2 linked regions of the Homo sapiens genome follow. The protein of the gene in region 1 interacts with the protein of each later gene in a pairwise test. Each region holds a gene or a part of one and is shown on either strand. Other genes may lie near its edges.

Region 1 (8,400 bases):
CTTCTAGCCGTAGGTGGCAGCTCCACATTCCTGGCTGACTTCTCAGAAAGCCCGTGCCCATCATCAGCCCTCAGGAGAGACTTAGGGATGAGAGTCAGAATAGGTGGGCAGAAAAAGACAAGCCTATGACTGCTTCTGGGGAAAGGACACAGGGGTCATTTGGTCTTATTAGCTCTGAAATTAGCAGCTTCTGAAGGACTAAGTATTATCTAGAACCAGTTTTACATAAAACCACAGTGACATTTGGCAAACACATCTGAGAAATAAAAACAAATTGAAAAAACTTGTAAGAGGAAATTTAAAATTCTTCTTCATGCAAGAAAGGAAGAAAACTATATGTGAGTTCTCTTTTTCGTGTTAATATTAAAATTAGTTTGACTTGCTAATAAATAACAGCCAACCCATATGCCCTTGAGGCATTTGCAATCATAAAAGGAAATTAATCACCAATATCACAGAGTCAACAACCCATCCATGGATAATTGAGAAGTATTCTTTCCCAAATATCTTAAGTAATAAAGACCATCCTCCTAAGTGTCAGAAAAAGGGAGGCAACTTGAAATAGAGGAAGCAGCCCTGGGCCAGGCCTCAGGAGGCCTGGATTCTTGTCCTCAGGTAAGCCGCTAACTAGATATGTTACCCAGGAATCTCAGCCTCATTTTCAGAACTTGAAAACACTGCATAATTTGGAGTAATTATGTTGTTGAAAATAGTATGCTAATCTAAAATGTTTCTAAAGGGCAATGCCTTTTAGGTCACCAAATACAAAGACCCTTTCCGGGTGAAGATGGGCATTCCCCGTCTGTGCATTAGCGAGCCAGTACCTGGCTCCTACTCCCCGTTAAGAGGAGGGATAGGTGAGGCTGCAGGCAAAAGTGGGCAGCTGACTCCCCTACCTGTAGCTGGGCGGCGCAGCTCTCACAGCACACAGTGTGGCCACAGGGACAGAAGGTGGAGTTGATCTCCTCCTCGCAGCACACCATGCACAGCATGGCTTCCTTCAGCTTGCGTAGCTTCTCCTGCAGCACCCGGGTCTGCTGGCAGCTGAGGCCCTCGCAGCTGCTGCAGTTCATGCTGCTTTCTGAGGACTTCAGAGGCGAGTGTGAAGGGCTCTGGTTGTTTCTTGAAACGAGGTCCACAACGCCAGCATTGTACAGAGCCCTCCTGGCATGGTCATACACCTCCTTTGATGTTCTTTTAATATCAAAGACATATTTCTTGCCAAGGTTAATGTTTTCATTCAGAAACAGAGATGCCAAGTGGCCCTTCAAGTCACGGCTATACTGCATCATCACGGCGCTGGTCACTGTGTCACACCTGCAAGGCAAGATTGAACATCTACTTTAACACCAAAGAGCCTGGCAGCACCCTTATTCGCTGTTGTCAATAAGAACAGAAATGTCAGCAGATGTTTCATAGTCTCGTCTGCATGTATGAAAGTAAGTCCTTCCAGTTTTACGTCTGGTAAATATTCTCAGTGATTACACCTCTGTTTCTCTAACATCTCCTGACATTATGGCTTCCGTAAAGCAGTAAATACAGAGGGCAGTGAGCACGTACCTCCTCCCCAGGACAGACGCTACTGAGTGAAGTTGCTTATGGAAGAAAAAGGGCATCTGCCTGAAGTCTTGGCTTTTAGGTTAGAAATGTCTAAAAATTTCCCATCCTGTTTCACAATTTGTGTATCTATTTTAAAATAAAAAAGTTTAAAGTTGTCTACGACTTAAATTTCTTAGCTTTAATTGTCCAAATACGTGAGTCCAATCACAACTTGGCTTTAAAGTACCCTCTGAAATGAGGGAATCAATATTGCTATTAAAAAATCCTTCCATACACAGTGACGACTCAGGATAGCAGCTCTGCCAGAAAGAAAAGATGATCTGTGCTATCCTTCTCCTGAGCAGTGGAGCAGGCCCAGTCCCTCAGGGTTACCTTTAGGGTAATCAAACTTGGCTTTGAAGCTGAGTCCTAGACTAAGTAAATAATTATCCTCCCAGTTCCCTCATCTTTAACATTAGGGTAATAATAACCCCTTAGGGTTGTTGTATTGATTAAATAGGCATAGAAATCTCCTAACACACTTTGTGTCTAGATTAATGGCATAAGAGAATACGGTAGGAGGTAAGCAGAGAATGTGTTTGTGCAGCTCACACACATGCACCTTCTGTGGGTAAAACAAGACTACATTAATAAGGACTCCACTGCTACTACGGAAACAAAATGTTCAGAATTTCTTAAATTCTGTACTAGACTCATTGACACAACAATCCAAGGAACCGTAGAAACCTGGTTGTCACCTAAAAACCTGAGAGCTGTGGTGCTGAGGTGACCAAGCACACGAGATACGTGCCTGTAGAATGCGTGCGTCTCTGTTATCGCTCGGTAGAGCCCGCTGGCCGCCCTGGTGCTGATCATTTTAAACAAGAGCACGATGCTGTTCCCAGATTCCTTGGTGACCGTCAAATATACATTCTTTCCTGACTGGGTGGCCATCTGCACCACAGGATAAGCTATCCTAAGAGACAGGAAGAGAAAAGAAAGCAGATCTAGAAGGAGTGATTCTTCACCATGTGTGTGCCTTTGTGGGATCCCCATTTGCTCATGACCTAGCAGAAAAATCAGACGCTTCCTCTGGGGTTATCACATCACCATAATGCTGCCTTATTGTAAAGATACAGTGAAAAGCAGTTGGGCATATGTGGAGGGAAGTATGGGAGCAAGTGCTGGGTGTGCGCACATGCATGTCTAGAGCTGAAAACAAGTTTTTTATGGCAGTGAATGGGTTATTTGGAAAACGTTAACTCTGCCACATTGTATACCTTGAATAACATTTAAAATGGTTATTTAGGCCTGAATAAAATTAATGTACATACCAAAATGAAATCTTTCATTCCTAAGAGCTGACTGTCGAGTAAATCCCTTCCTATTTTCTATTACATTGACAGCTACAGATGTATACACATGCTTAGGTCAAAAAAAGTTAAGTCTTGGCTTACCTATTAATTGGGCTAAAGTCATCTTTACAAATTGAGATTCCTTCAGGTCCAACCCCAATGAGCAGTTTCTGCCCTTCGCTATCCCGCACAGAATGCCATTCTATGCCATAGTTTTCCATTGCCGACACAATCTGCAAAACTTGGTATTCAGCTGAAGCCTGGCTGGTCCCCTCCAACTCCTTATGTTTTGCAACAATGCTGGAGGACACCAAGAGGACAGAGAATTAAGTATACAGATATTAGCTTTAGAGATAAACCTATGTAGTCTTCACGAGTGAAATATACTAACACTGATGAATCACAACAACTTAAAACTTATGTATTACTGATGTTTCATGTATTTAGCGAACTTACTATAAAAAACGTCTAAGACACTGGGATCTCAACTATTAAATACTTGGTAAAAACACTTTGGGGATGCTGGATGGGTGATGAATTGGAAGAATTATGGAAAGTCTCTAAAAATATACATAAGTCAAATTTACATATTGGAAAGTCTCATGCATTTGTCCACATATAGTTTATAAGTATAAAGTTGACCCCTGAGGCCCCTGTGGCCAGGGAAGGAGGTAGGCCAACAAACCACAGGAGTCAACCTGGCATGGAGGCCACCCTCAGTCGAGCCTTCAGATGAGACAGAGTTCTACCTGCAGCTTGACTACAGTCTCATGAGCCAGAGGACCCAGCCAAGACATGGCCAGATTCCTGACCTACAGAACTGTGAGACAATTTTTGTTGTTTTATGTCACTAAGTTTTGGGGTAACTTGTTATGCAGGAATAGATAACTAAAATGCCTATGTTAGATCTCCTGGTTTAATTCTTGCTGGGATGAAGAAAACACCAATATACATAATAGATTTTTTATTTTAGGAGATTTGTACTTAAAGGCACAGATTTAAAAAATTCCCATTTTATATAGCATTTCATATTGTGTTTACATATTTTTCAAATAAAAGGCTAACAAATTTTTTGAAAATATTTGGTTAAATTGGGCAATGGCCCAGTCTTAACTTCACAAATTATGTGTATGTACCACAGATTCATCTTCTTTTGGAAATGCTTATACATTTGATAGCTCTATGAATATATGCAGTAGCCCTGATGCTGCCATGTTCATGCTCTGGTGTCTCTGGTCTTGCTGCTCCCTCTGTCCTGATGGCCATTCTTTCTGTCCCCTTGCTTGGATACCCTTTGGTCTGTATCACATGCAAATCCTCTATTCCTCTGGTACAGTATTTGACATAACATGTATATTATGTATGACTTCTTAAGTGCCTCGAACATCAGAGAGCTCAAAAATGTACATAAAACTGCATATTATGTGTGATTAGTTTACCTTCCAACCTTAGTTTCATCCTGTTTAAGCCTATTCTAGTTGTAAACAATACTATATTCAACAGCCTCACCTGTTCAAGGTGGCAGAGGAGAGCTCCTTGGCACAGAGCTCCTCATAGTTATACTTGGCAGTGTTCTGGTTGTAGTCTCCAAACTTGGTCTGGGCCAGGAGGGCACTGAGTTCCACTGCCTGCTCTGGGGAACACAAGAGGTGGCCTGCCAAGAGGGCCTCCTTGATGTGCAAGAAAAAGATATGCCTGCAAAGCAAGGTGAGAGTGAGGTTATGCTTGGGGATAACCTGACATCAATCTCAGCCTACTTAGCAATTTCACAGTCACTTTTAAGGAAAGCAATTTTAAAAGTCACACTGAAAATGCTTAACATTAAAGAACTTCAAAAAAAAATCATCAGTATTAAGGCAAAATCAAAATAAGAACTGCGTTTCTCTGGAATAAAAGTTGTGACCCAAACAAGATAAACTTATTTAACACAAGTTCGGTAACATTAAGGTTACAAAACATAAAATAATTACACATAAGTTTCTGCATTATAGTGTTTTAAAAGAAATTATTTTAATCAGAAAAATTGTATCTTGACATGGATTCTGATAGAATCTTAAGGAACTCTATACATAAAGACAAAATTCTCACCTTTATTCAAATGATACCCCAATCTCTAGTCTCAGTGCCAGCTTCTGTCCTAAGAATCACATGAAAAATGTCCAATCTCCTATAGGCTTCACCACCTGGATGTTCTTCGGTACCTCAATTTTGGCTCATTCAAAACCAAACTCCATATATTCTTTCCCAAGCCCTTTTTCTCCGAATGGAGACCACGGACTGACTTTGGACTCTTTGTCCTATTTCACTTGACTTTCTTCTCTCTGAAAACTATTTAAATCCAGTTCTATCCTCCCATTTGTACCTCCTCAATACTACTTGCAGGAAGAATTTACACTATTCTCTGCGCTGCTCTCCTCCTCCAGACTCCATGCAGGCAGCCTACCTTCCATGCTGCTTGTTTCTAGTATAAACTTGTCATTTCTCTGCTCAAAATCCTTCAAAGGATCTGTACGGCTTGCCAAGGGAGCACGTTGTTAACGTGGAGCTGAGGAGTCTCCGCCATCTGGCCCCAGCTTTCCAGCCACGTCTCCTGTCATTCCCTGCAGCTGCTATGCCCCAGGATAGGGAACGATTCCTCTCCCTGGGAAATCTAGGAAGCATGTTCATGCTCTGGTGTCTCTGGTCTTGCTGCTCCCTCTGTCCTGAGGGCCATTCTTTCTGTCGCCTTGCTTGGATACCCTTTGGTCTGTATCACATGCAAATCCTCTATTCCTCTGGTACAGTATTTGACATAACATGTATATTATGTATGACTTCTTAAGTGCCTCGAACATCAGAGAGCTCCAAAAATGTACATAAAACTGCATATTATGTGTGATTAGTTTACCTTCCAACCTTAGTTTCATCCTGTTTAAGCCCATCCTAGTTGTATACAATACTATATTCTACATTTACTAAAAGGTTATGTCACACTTAAAAACTCCTGTAAAATTCAGATACTGGTCACACTGCCCAAAACTCTGAAGAGCACCTAAACTGCTGTAGACAGATTGGCCTCAGTTATAACAAGTGTCCCTGGCAAATGTGAAGTTTTAACCTTCCTTCGATGACTTGTCATAACCTCTCAAACAAGGCTAATTGCCACATTATTCGTCCCATTAACAAATGAATTGTAACTTTGGCCAGGTGCGATGTCCTCAGCACTGTTTCTGTTTAATAATATATCTGTGTCTGACATTCCAGGTAGAGGAACATGAGCAAGGTAAGAATCGACTAAGGAGGAGGCAGTGAGGCTACAAATCTAAGGAGGTGCTATACTGAGAGTCTACAATGTCTGGCTGACAAGAGCCATTAATCTTATTTTCACTAAGAAGTATTTAAATTCAATGTTTTGTGCATTCTATAATGATAAAGAAATATTTAAAATGATGAAACTCTGCCAAATACTGCAGTTTTTTCTTTTTTTCAAAGCCCGTGTAAAGAAATCATAGTAAGAATGTGTAATAGCCTCAAAGAAGATAAAGATGGTTTTTATTAACCCAAACATCTGCTAATCTTTAAAGTATTTCTGACATACTGCTAAACTGAGAAAGGAGCCCCCACTGGGGCAAAGGAATCACCATGAAAATAATTTGCTGTAAAATAGCTATCTGAGGACTGAGATCCAGCATTCTCAGCAAGCCGTGGTTTACTACACTGTTGCAGGCCTCAAAAGGCTTCTTAGATGACCATTTGATAAACTTCATCTTGGTGAATGTACCCATCTCTGTATTCGACTGGGGTGGAGGTGTGCTGTTAGGAAACTAAAATCTGCATCTATGCTTTCGTTAAAGAAGAAATTACGCTCTGAAAGACTTGAAGAATATTGCCACAAACGAAGTCTTCTTAGTTTAATTACTGCTTATGTAAAAGTGGCCTTTTTTTTTTTTTTTGAGATGGAGTCTTGCTCTGTCGCCCAGGCTGGAGTGCTATGGCACGATCTGGGCTCACTGCAAGCTCCGCCTCCTGGGTTCAAGCGATTCTCCTGCCTCGGCCTCCCGATAGCTACATTAGACCATGCCTGTCTAATTTTTGTATTTTTATTAGAGACGGGGTTTCACCGTGTTAGCCAGGATGGTCTCAATCTCCTGACCTCATGATCTGCCTGCCTCGGCCTCCCAAAGTGCTGGGATTACAGGCAAAAGTGGCTTTTAACTTATTTTTCAGGTGTAAAGTTAGAGACTAGTTCCTGCTTTATTAGATAGTAAGAAGAGTTTTGAATCAATTCCGTGTCTTTTTGCAACCTATCCATGCCTACACTTCCGGAGAGACAGTGGCCAAAATCAAAGGCAAAGAAGCAGTAACAGAATGTAAACAGGTGGCAGGCAGCCTGAGAGCACCACTGATCCTTCTCAGCATATGGGCCAGAATTTAAGAAAAGATCTAGCAAGGGCGATGATTGACCTTTTCGACATACTCCACATTCTAGCCTGGAGTGCAGAGGATGCCTGGTAAGCATGAAAAATCCTTCTCCTTACTGTCAACATCAGCTTTCTGATAGTCCCTTCCTGCATTTTGCAGTTTCATGGCTATAAAGCAACCTTTTCATTTCAAGCCAATAAATATTTGTCTTGCACCGCCTCTGTGCCCAGCCCTAAGCTGGGGTTTTAGGGTAAACATGTCTGAGAGTTCCTTTTTAGATGGACTTACAGCCTTTTACAATAAAGGGACATATCCCATCAAAATAACTCCAGCCACAATCTAGCTTTTGGGTGACAAGTTTATGCTCTCCAGGAGAACAGTACAACAGAGTACTAGTAGCAAAGATCAGCACTCTAATAGGCTCTTTCCAAGACAGAGGATAGCAGAGCTCAGAGACATGTTTCCAACAAGAACTTCAGTGATGGCTCAATATTTATGGGTGGTTTTGAATCAAGTATTTTCTCTTAGTATTTTCCCCTCAAACCATCTGGATTGTAACTATCTGGCTCCTGGGTTTTGCCCCCTCCTTTTTTTTTTTGTAAAGTAGGCAAAATGTTACCAATAATATCAAAACAAGCAGATGTGGTCAAATAAGTTATGCCTGCAGTGAATGCTTTTGCACTAAAGATCAAAAGTAGATGACATATTCAATTCAATAGAGGCTACATCCTAGAATCACAAACAGAAAGAAAGCCTTTGGAAAAAAACTGTTTTCTCTGTCTTAAGGAAATGTCCATGAATACATCCTATGAGCATAAATAAGCTCAAACTGCACCTTTTAAACATTCTTCGGGTTATACCTTCTAATTCATGACTCTTCTTTAAGTTTTACCCAGTTACTAAGAAAACTGATATTTTCAATATATGGATCACATTTTGGGGCCCAAGGCGTAACATTCTGGCTAAACTCATGTCCTGGCATCGTGGGCACAGATGAATTAACATTTACTGAGCATTATAGATTTTTTTTTTAATGGAGTGAATATAAGGATATGCCAAATTTTAATTTTAAAAATGAATCACATATTCTTACTATATTTTTCTT
Region 2 (7,700 bases), on another chromosome or scaffold:
TGCTTTAAAGAAATTGTGGTACAAAGTGGAGACCTCTCCCATGATTATAGTCAATAATGTTAAGAAATCACTTTATTTTCAAATCTTACATTAGAAAAGAAGTAAGAAACAAGTTTAATGCCTTACTAAAATCATTTACTATTGGTCTCCTTTTAAGACATGGAGTATATGTTATTTTTTAAAATCCAAAAACAATAACGCTTTTACTTATTTTCAAAAAGAAACAGAGCAACTTTAGTTTTCCATTATTTGGAGAAAATTATAGCACAAAATACGTTGAAACTATTTATAACATCCAAATATAAAATATGATCACGGACAATTTAAAATACATTTTCTATCTGTGTATCTGTATTTTTCACATTTTGGTTAGAAATTTAGTTAGAATCATCCAATTGAATGAACTAGATTAGATAATTTAAACATTGCCTGAAATACATATAGTCCATCTATTATTTTCTATCTTATTGATCTGGCCTCTCACTTGACTCTTTTACTCAAACAGATGCTATAACTCTATTAGCTTTCTTCTTCCTCCTCCTCTTTTCTCCCCTCCCTCCCACTAATCTCCACTCTTACAAGATGAGCTGGGTTTTAGTGGTGCAGCTGCTGGCTAATACCCACAGATATAGGTCCTAATGTTGCCTTTGATTTGAGGAAATTTTAAGGCATCCAATTTCTTTAAACCTCAAGTCTATGAAATTAGACCAATATCAGAATCTCCTCTCAATACAATAAAGAGAGTTGAGACTTGAATTTTCTTATAGTCTTAAATTTTCATTGTTATTTGATTCTGTGTTGTAAACACATTCTTCAATGACTATCGGCCTACCCTACTTCCTGATCCTCAATTACATAATTCTTGGTTTCCTTTACAGTGTTTTGTTTTGCTAACTTTAAGAAAAACATCTTTTTGTTGCACCCTTATCACTGTAGAAGTTGCTCATATCATTAAATGCTATGGCATGTTGCAGAATGTATAGATCTCCTCTGGATGACTTTCCAACTTATCCATCTTCATGCTTTTATGAAAAACATGTTCTTTCTCTAATAATGACTATCCTTACTTATGTCACAAAGATGCTATGAGGACAAATTTTATCATGTATTTTAAACACTGTGAATTCCTTAGAAACAACAACAAAGCACTATAGAGATAAGAGTTATTCTTCCTCTATTTATATAGATCCTGACAGGGAGTTAAGAGACCAGGTAAGTCAGATCCTTGGTAATCACAGCTCTTTTGAGCCTCCCTTTCCTCACTTCTAAAAGGTGGACATATCATCTGCTACATCTGGCTTAATAGTAGAACCCAGGACCCAAATGAGAAATGAATGTGAAACAGTAGAGCCTACGCTCTGTAAATAACCATCCCCAAAATTCACAGGGATATAGTTTTTAGAAAAGACTATCTCCAATGAAGTTATACTAGTGTGGATTTTAAAGAATTCAGGTAGCCACACCCGATTTTCTAATGAAATATAAAATGTCCCCTGAATTCTGATGTTATTGGCCAGTGAAAACAAATACTACTATATGATCATTTCGGCCAAGCCTTTGGAATGAAGGCCAAGAGGGTTTACCTGAATAATCTGGGCAGCAAGCTCCGGAGTTCCATACTTCAGGTCGTGCCCATTGATGGCCAGCACTCGGTCATTGCTGCTTAGCCTGCCGTCCTGGGCAGCCAACCCCCCTTCCAACAGGTCAAGAATAAAAACCCCTGGCTCATCTGTCCTTCGCACCAATTTAATGCCAAGCTGTTCACCAGAGTCCCGTTTATGAAGAGCCACTTGGAAAATCTCTTCTCGTGGAGAGTTACTATCAGAATGGTTGTGTGCTCGGTTGCCAAAGCGCCTCTCTCGAAGCACAGTAAGATGCAGTGTGTTGCAGGGCTGGGAAAGGACAGCTCGGGCATAGTTATGGGACACATTGCTGATATTGTAGTTGTTGACCTAGAAAAAAAGAATTGTGACCGAAGTGTGACAACCTTTTATTTTTCCAATTTGTAGGAATGTTTATGTGACATTTCCACAGGAAACTAAGTATTGTGAGAGTGCTAAGTATGGTGAGAATGCTATACAATCATTATTTACAAAGAAAACCACATTAAAGACATTTAAAAACAGAGTTTCTAATATTAACTTACAGTGACTAGCATCAAGGAGAGAATAGTAGCTAGGATCACGGGCTTTAATGACGGTCTTGAATTAGAGTCCTAGGTACTACCATTTACTAACTGATAACTTAGGCAAATTATAGAACTTGTCTGAATGAGTCTCCTCATCTGTAAAATGTGTTTACTTCATGGGATCAGTATGAGAATGAACAGATTAACATGGGGCAAGTGCTAATGAAATAAATACTAATTCTAGTGGAACAGAAATTTAAGTTTTACTAGATTACAAATTTGCTTCTTCCAAATTAAATACACTTAAGCTAGAGAAAATAAATTGTTATTTTAAGGAAAGTAGCACATTTCAGGTATACAAACTTATTTTAGATAAGTGACTTTTACCTGAAAGAAAACCAGGTTAATTGTAATTTCACTCTAATTCTTCAGCACAGAAATATTAGGTTGGTGCAAAAGTAATTACGGTTTTTACCATTAAAAGTAAAATATAATGTATATCTAATGCATTATTCAATACTCATATAACATTTATGTATTCACCTTTATAATCTCAAAAAAAGTATAGTGACTGATCCTTGGGTATGTAACAGCACTTAGAAAATACACCTAACTTCAATTATTTCTTTAGTTACAAGAGATGAGCATGATTCTTAGCATTTATCACAATTAGAGTTCTTCTCTGAATCGGTCTGAGATGAAACCAACATCCTCTGACCATCTGTTATATGACAGGCTCTGAGTTAGGTGTTTATGATCACCTAAAATTCTTACATCTTTTTCACACAAATCCACATTAGGCAAGACTTTCCTCTTCCTATTGACTTAGGATTGATAGTTGTAAATACTATTTTGAATTTTGTTGATTTTGACCTATTAACACCTTTCAGAATTCAGTCACCAAATGCACAGATGTCACACACAAACTTGCTTTCTCCCAAGTCTGCAACATCTATTAATTTGGTAGTCATCCAAGTCCTTGGTAAAAGTATTGAATAATACAGGGTCAAGAATGGAACTTCTGAAGTTCTATTATATTTAGAAAGCAGCTTCTAAAAATCCACGCAGATATAGATTCATTAGTCAAACCACCATTTCCAACTATTTAGCTACAAAGCTACCTACCTGTAGGTTCACATTTTTCTGTCTTATATTCAGACATATCACACATATCACAAATGACTTTACAAAACGTCTGGCTAAAATCCAGCCATGTGTAAACATGCAGCCTCATAACATCTTTGTGAAGCAGGCTGGGGAATATTCTACAACTGGAAAAAGATTTTTCCTCCAGGAATGCATGGTTGCCAGTGAAATTCAGAGAAAGCAGAAACCAAATAAAATATTGTTTCTAGATTTTGTAAAAATAACATCAGCATAGCAAACTATCTCATTTTTGAGCTAAATGTATTTTTTTATCAATCAACAGCTGTAATTATTTTCCTTCAGAACTGAAAATGCCATTATTGATGACTTCATTAAACTGAAAATACTTATTCTTAATAATGTTCTAAGTTATATTACTTTTATTAATGATATTGAGGTAATTTATAATAGCAGTATTTTTTTTTCTTCAAAACTGCTCAAAGAGGCTGCATATGAAACTCTAAGAGTAGCAAAAAGCTCTAACAGCATATGGTTCTCCTTTTCAAAGAGGCTATTTAATAACATTTGTATATGTAAATAAATATATATAAATGTGGGAAAACCACCAAAGCCACACACTGCTTATGTATATGGTCTGCAAAAATGAAAATGCAAGCTAGCTCTCTGGTCTGCAAATCAACCATCTTACTGCCTCTTCGAGATTTTCAAATTGGCTCACTGTGTTATATTTATTTAGCTTATACAAAGTTGGAGGTAACCAGATAGTAAAAAATACCAATAGGCCTCTTTCCAAGTGTTTACTCTTGAATAACCATAAATAGTCCATATGTGGGAAAGGGGGGTGGCTTTACTTGGCTCCAACACACCAGTTAAAAGCCAACCAGAAGTCAGGGCCTATAATAGGAGAGACCCTTTGTGAATTCATTAATCAGATTATGTGCTCAGACTTTTCTTATCAATTTGAATCATTAAACTAGATGTAAGATTGCCATTATTGGAGTTATTAGTATACAGGTTTCCATAAACAGTAATAATGCAGTGGAATTTCTACAATGTAGACTTTATAACTGAATTAATTCCCAAAAATATGGTTGATAATTTCAGATAATTACAATCTTTTGAGGTCTAAAGATTCAGTAGTGTTAATGAACCATTCTCTAAAATAGAAACAAGCCCACTGATGAAATGTATTAGTAAAAAAACTTAAACAAATCTGTTATATTCAAAGAAATATAAATAAAAACATTTGTAACAATACTGGGCTAGTAGCAAAAAATAAGTGTACACTTACATTTCAGCTAAAAAGCCCAGAAGTGGGAGAGTCAAAGAACACTCAGTGGGCTGCAGAAAAGGACTATCTGCCCTTCCTGGTCCTGACCACCAAAGTGTCAAGATGTCTGGGAGGATGAACCTGGGAAATGAGCTGTAAGAGTCGCTCTCTGCAAAATCAAGTCAGGAGCTAGGATGTAAATAATACAAGGGGTCCTACAAGTTGTGCCAGCCTGTGCAGCTAAAGTACTAATATCATAAAATGCAGCTAGGATAACTAAATAGCTAGCTATGACAGGATCAGAAATCTGATTTTATATGAGCTGGATTAGTTATGTTCCTGTATTCGTCTATTACATCTAAGTATTTGGTAAAAAAAACACTGTTTGAAAGCTCAGTCTGTCTCAGCCATGCCTAGGGGTAATGAAGGAAAGGTTTTAGGCTTGGTGTTAATTATTTTCAGGAATAATACACCATGAAAAGCAGCATACAAGCGGGAGTGGAAATCAAACCCAAGAATCCCTAGTAGGGTCAATCCTGGCTGCCTTTGTAGACTCCCATAGCCCCAAGTCTAGAGATTTCTTTTCAACAACTAAAAATCCTAACCAAGTTTTTCTTTTAATAAAGGAGATGGCTATTCCCAACAGCATCTTATATTCAAATTCACTCTTTTATTGACTCAGCAAATATTTTCTGAGCACTTACTACAAGCTATGAGAAATCTGTATCATAATCTGTACCATTAGGGTGGTTGCAATTACCTTAGATCATGCCTACATACGTAAAATGTTCAAACAATTCTCTGTAACTCATCACGTGCCAAGTGATGAAGAGAAAAGTGATGAATGCCAATAATAACTAATGTAGGAGGAATCAGTATGGGGGAGAATGGCTGAACAAAAGCTTTAAGGATGAAGGTGAACAAACTGGCTCATGAGATGAGGACAGGCTGCAATGTGGGAATAAGGTGTTTGCAGGGAAGGAAGAAGACTGCTATGTCTGGCTCTTCCACTAGATTGTATATTCCACGAGGACAGGTCAGTATTTTGCTCTGAAATGTACCACCAGCAACTAGTATAGTGCCTAGAATGTTGTGAGAAATGAATGAGCTGGTGTGCCTGAAATGAAGAATTGAGATTAACAAGACAGGTTGTAGAAGAGACCGTGGAGGACCCTGACTATTAGATTAATCAGTCTGGACTTGACCTCCTAGTTGAACCTTTGCAAGGCAAGCAGGGTTACTGATGTATTAACCTGGCAGTGATTGTTTCAGATTTAAGGGAGGAGAGTTGGGAGGCAGAAGTATATGATGGGGTATTCTACTAAATTAGATATGAAGAAGAGAAGTCCTAGACTCAAGAAGTGGCAGGAAAATGGAAGTAGGGGGTAGATATCAACAGGTCATGGTGAAGGACCGAACCACAAATCCAAGGAGAGAGAGGAGTCCCTGCGCTTGGGTTGACAGGAGACATTTTTTCTTGTTCATGAATATTTCCTCTCTCTCCTAGAAGTTATCCGTTTTTAAGCTTCAATTATTATCACCTTTGTATGATGAAAATGGTCCAGGCCGGTATTAACATCAACTCCGGGATTGTAGAACTCTTACCATCCTCCTCCCCTCATCTCAACTTGCCCTCTAATAAAATATCTTGTCCCATGCTAGTTATTTCTGGAGAATACCTGTTTCTTCTTAAAGATCATCTTCTGAAAGGGAAAACAGTAAGGGGAGCGAAGGGGATTATTGAAAATGCAGAGTTAGAGTGTTTGCTGAGGAGAGTGCATTAGGGAGTTGATAGGAGATGACTGCAAGATTTCTGAACTCTATCTTATAATCTGTGGTATAAATTATGAGTGCTGCATGGTTCCTTCTTTTCTAGATTTTAGTAGTCTGTATAGAAAAGGATAAATCCAACAATGAAGGTAATGAATGGGAAAACTGGGTATAAAATAATACCAATGAGATGATAATTTCAACATGGATGAAGGTGACCCTTGAACAGTCATTCAAGAAGTCCAAGCAGGAAGAGGCTAGTCAGCCCAAGGAAGAGTCTAGCTAGCTCAGCAAGCCTGAGATCATGTGCCAAGCCACATCGCATGCAGGAATGAAAATTAAGATAGGAAGAAAAAATACTCTGTGTATATGGGAAAATACCACAAATTACACATAAATTCTGATGTTTTGCATATAGAAACAGTAAAACTAATCTATATATAATTTAGGTTCCAAAACAGCACAATTTTCTAAGGTTTAAGTGTTAAGAATGGAACAAAAAGGCACAAGTTAACAGAATAATTAAAACTGATACCTGAAGAATCTGGTCTCCAGCAAGAAGTCTCCCGTCTCTGGCAATGACCCCATCCCGATAGACCTCCTGGATGACAATGTTAATCAAAGGTGTTTCGTTGCCACCCACAATGCTGATTCCTAACTGAATGTAAGGATTGGACCGATGAATTTCAATCGTGGTGATTTCTCCTTCTGGTAAACTAAGTGGCTGTTGTGTGGCTGCCAAGTTAAAAATGAGACAGACAAAAACAGATGTTAAAAAAATAAACAAACCCAACAATTTATATTCTGATTATCTTCAGGTAAGTATGTCACATTAATACATGATTAACAGCTAAGCAGTATCACTGGATAAGAAACAAAATGACAAAATATCTGTTGTTAAGATTATCTAAAAATTTTCTCTACTAAAACTGATCAGTAAATAATAAATAGCTACTATGTATCAGATCACTAGGGACGACACAGTGATCTGATTAAGAAATATGAAAAGAAAGTCATTCTGTCCTCATTGATGAGAGAAAATTTGGACCACGAAACAACTGTACATAATGAGAGGCAGTACAAAGGAAACACTAGCTCTGTGGCATAGAAACAGCACAGGTGTTGAGAGAGTAGCCACATCAAGCTCGTAAGAAGAGGTGGGTCTTGAACGGAGACGTAGGAAATGAAGAAGGCGCATAGTTGCGGCAAGGAAAATTCAAATTTGTAGTAGAGCTTGGAAAAAGAAAATCATTTTTAAAAGGAAATATCAAGGGCCCACTACCATGATATGCCCAAGATCCATGACTACGGGCCTTCTGTTAACTTCCTAGTGGGTAACAGAGCAGTGGCTGGTACCAGAGGTGTATAACGGTGAGATGCATGGTCTTGGAGTCAAATACAAACCCAGTCATTTACTGGTTGTAT

What was found. Proteins that work in one complex are often made in the same cells at the same time.
Region 2: the proteins of MYLIP (region 1) and LNX2 interact in binary tests that used the Homo sapiens proteins (3 or more experiments, as listed by UniProt).

The regions. Positions count from the first base shown.
Region 1 is NC_000006.12:16,137,814-16,146,213, reverse strand, and holds part of MYLIP (E3 ubiquitin-protein ligase MYLIP), read right to left. Parts: intron 4,659-8,400; exon of another isoform or gene 4,590-4,658; coding exon 4,404-4,589; intron 3,195-4,403; coding exon 2,997-3,194; intron 2,516-2,996; coding exon 2,351-2,515; intron 1,318-2,350; coding exon 897-1,317; intron 1-896. UniProt on the Homo sapiens protein: E3 ubiquitin-protein ligase that mediates ubiquitination and subsequent proteasomal degradation of myosin regulatory light chain (MRLC), LDLR, VLDLR and LRP8. Activity depends on E2 enzymes of the UBE2D family.
Region 2 is NC_000013.11:27,560,830-27,568,529, forward strand, and holds part of LNX2 (ligand of Numb protein X 2), read right to left. Parts: intron 7,011-7,700; coding exon 6,811-7,010; intron 1,953-6,810; coding exon 1,584-1,952; intron 1-1,583.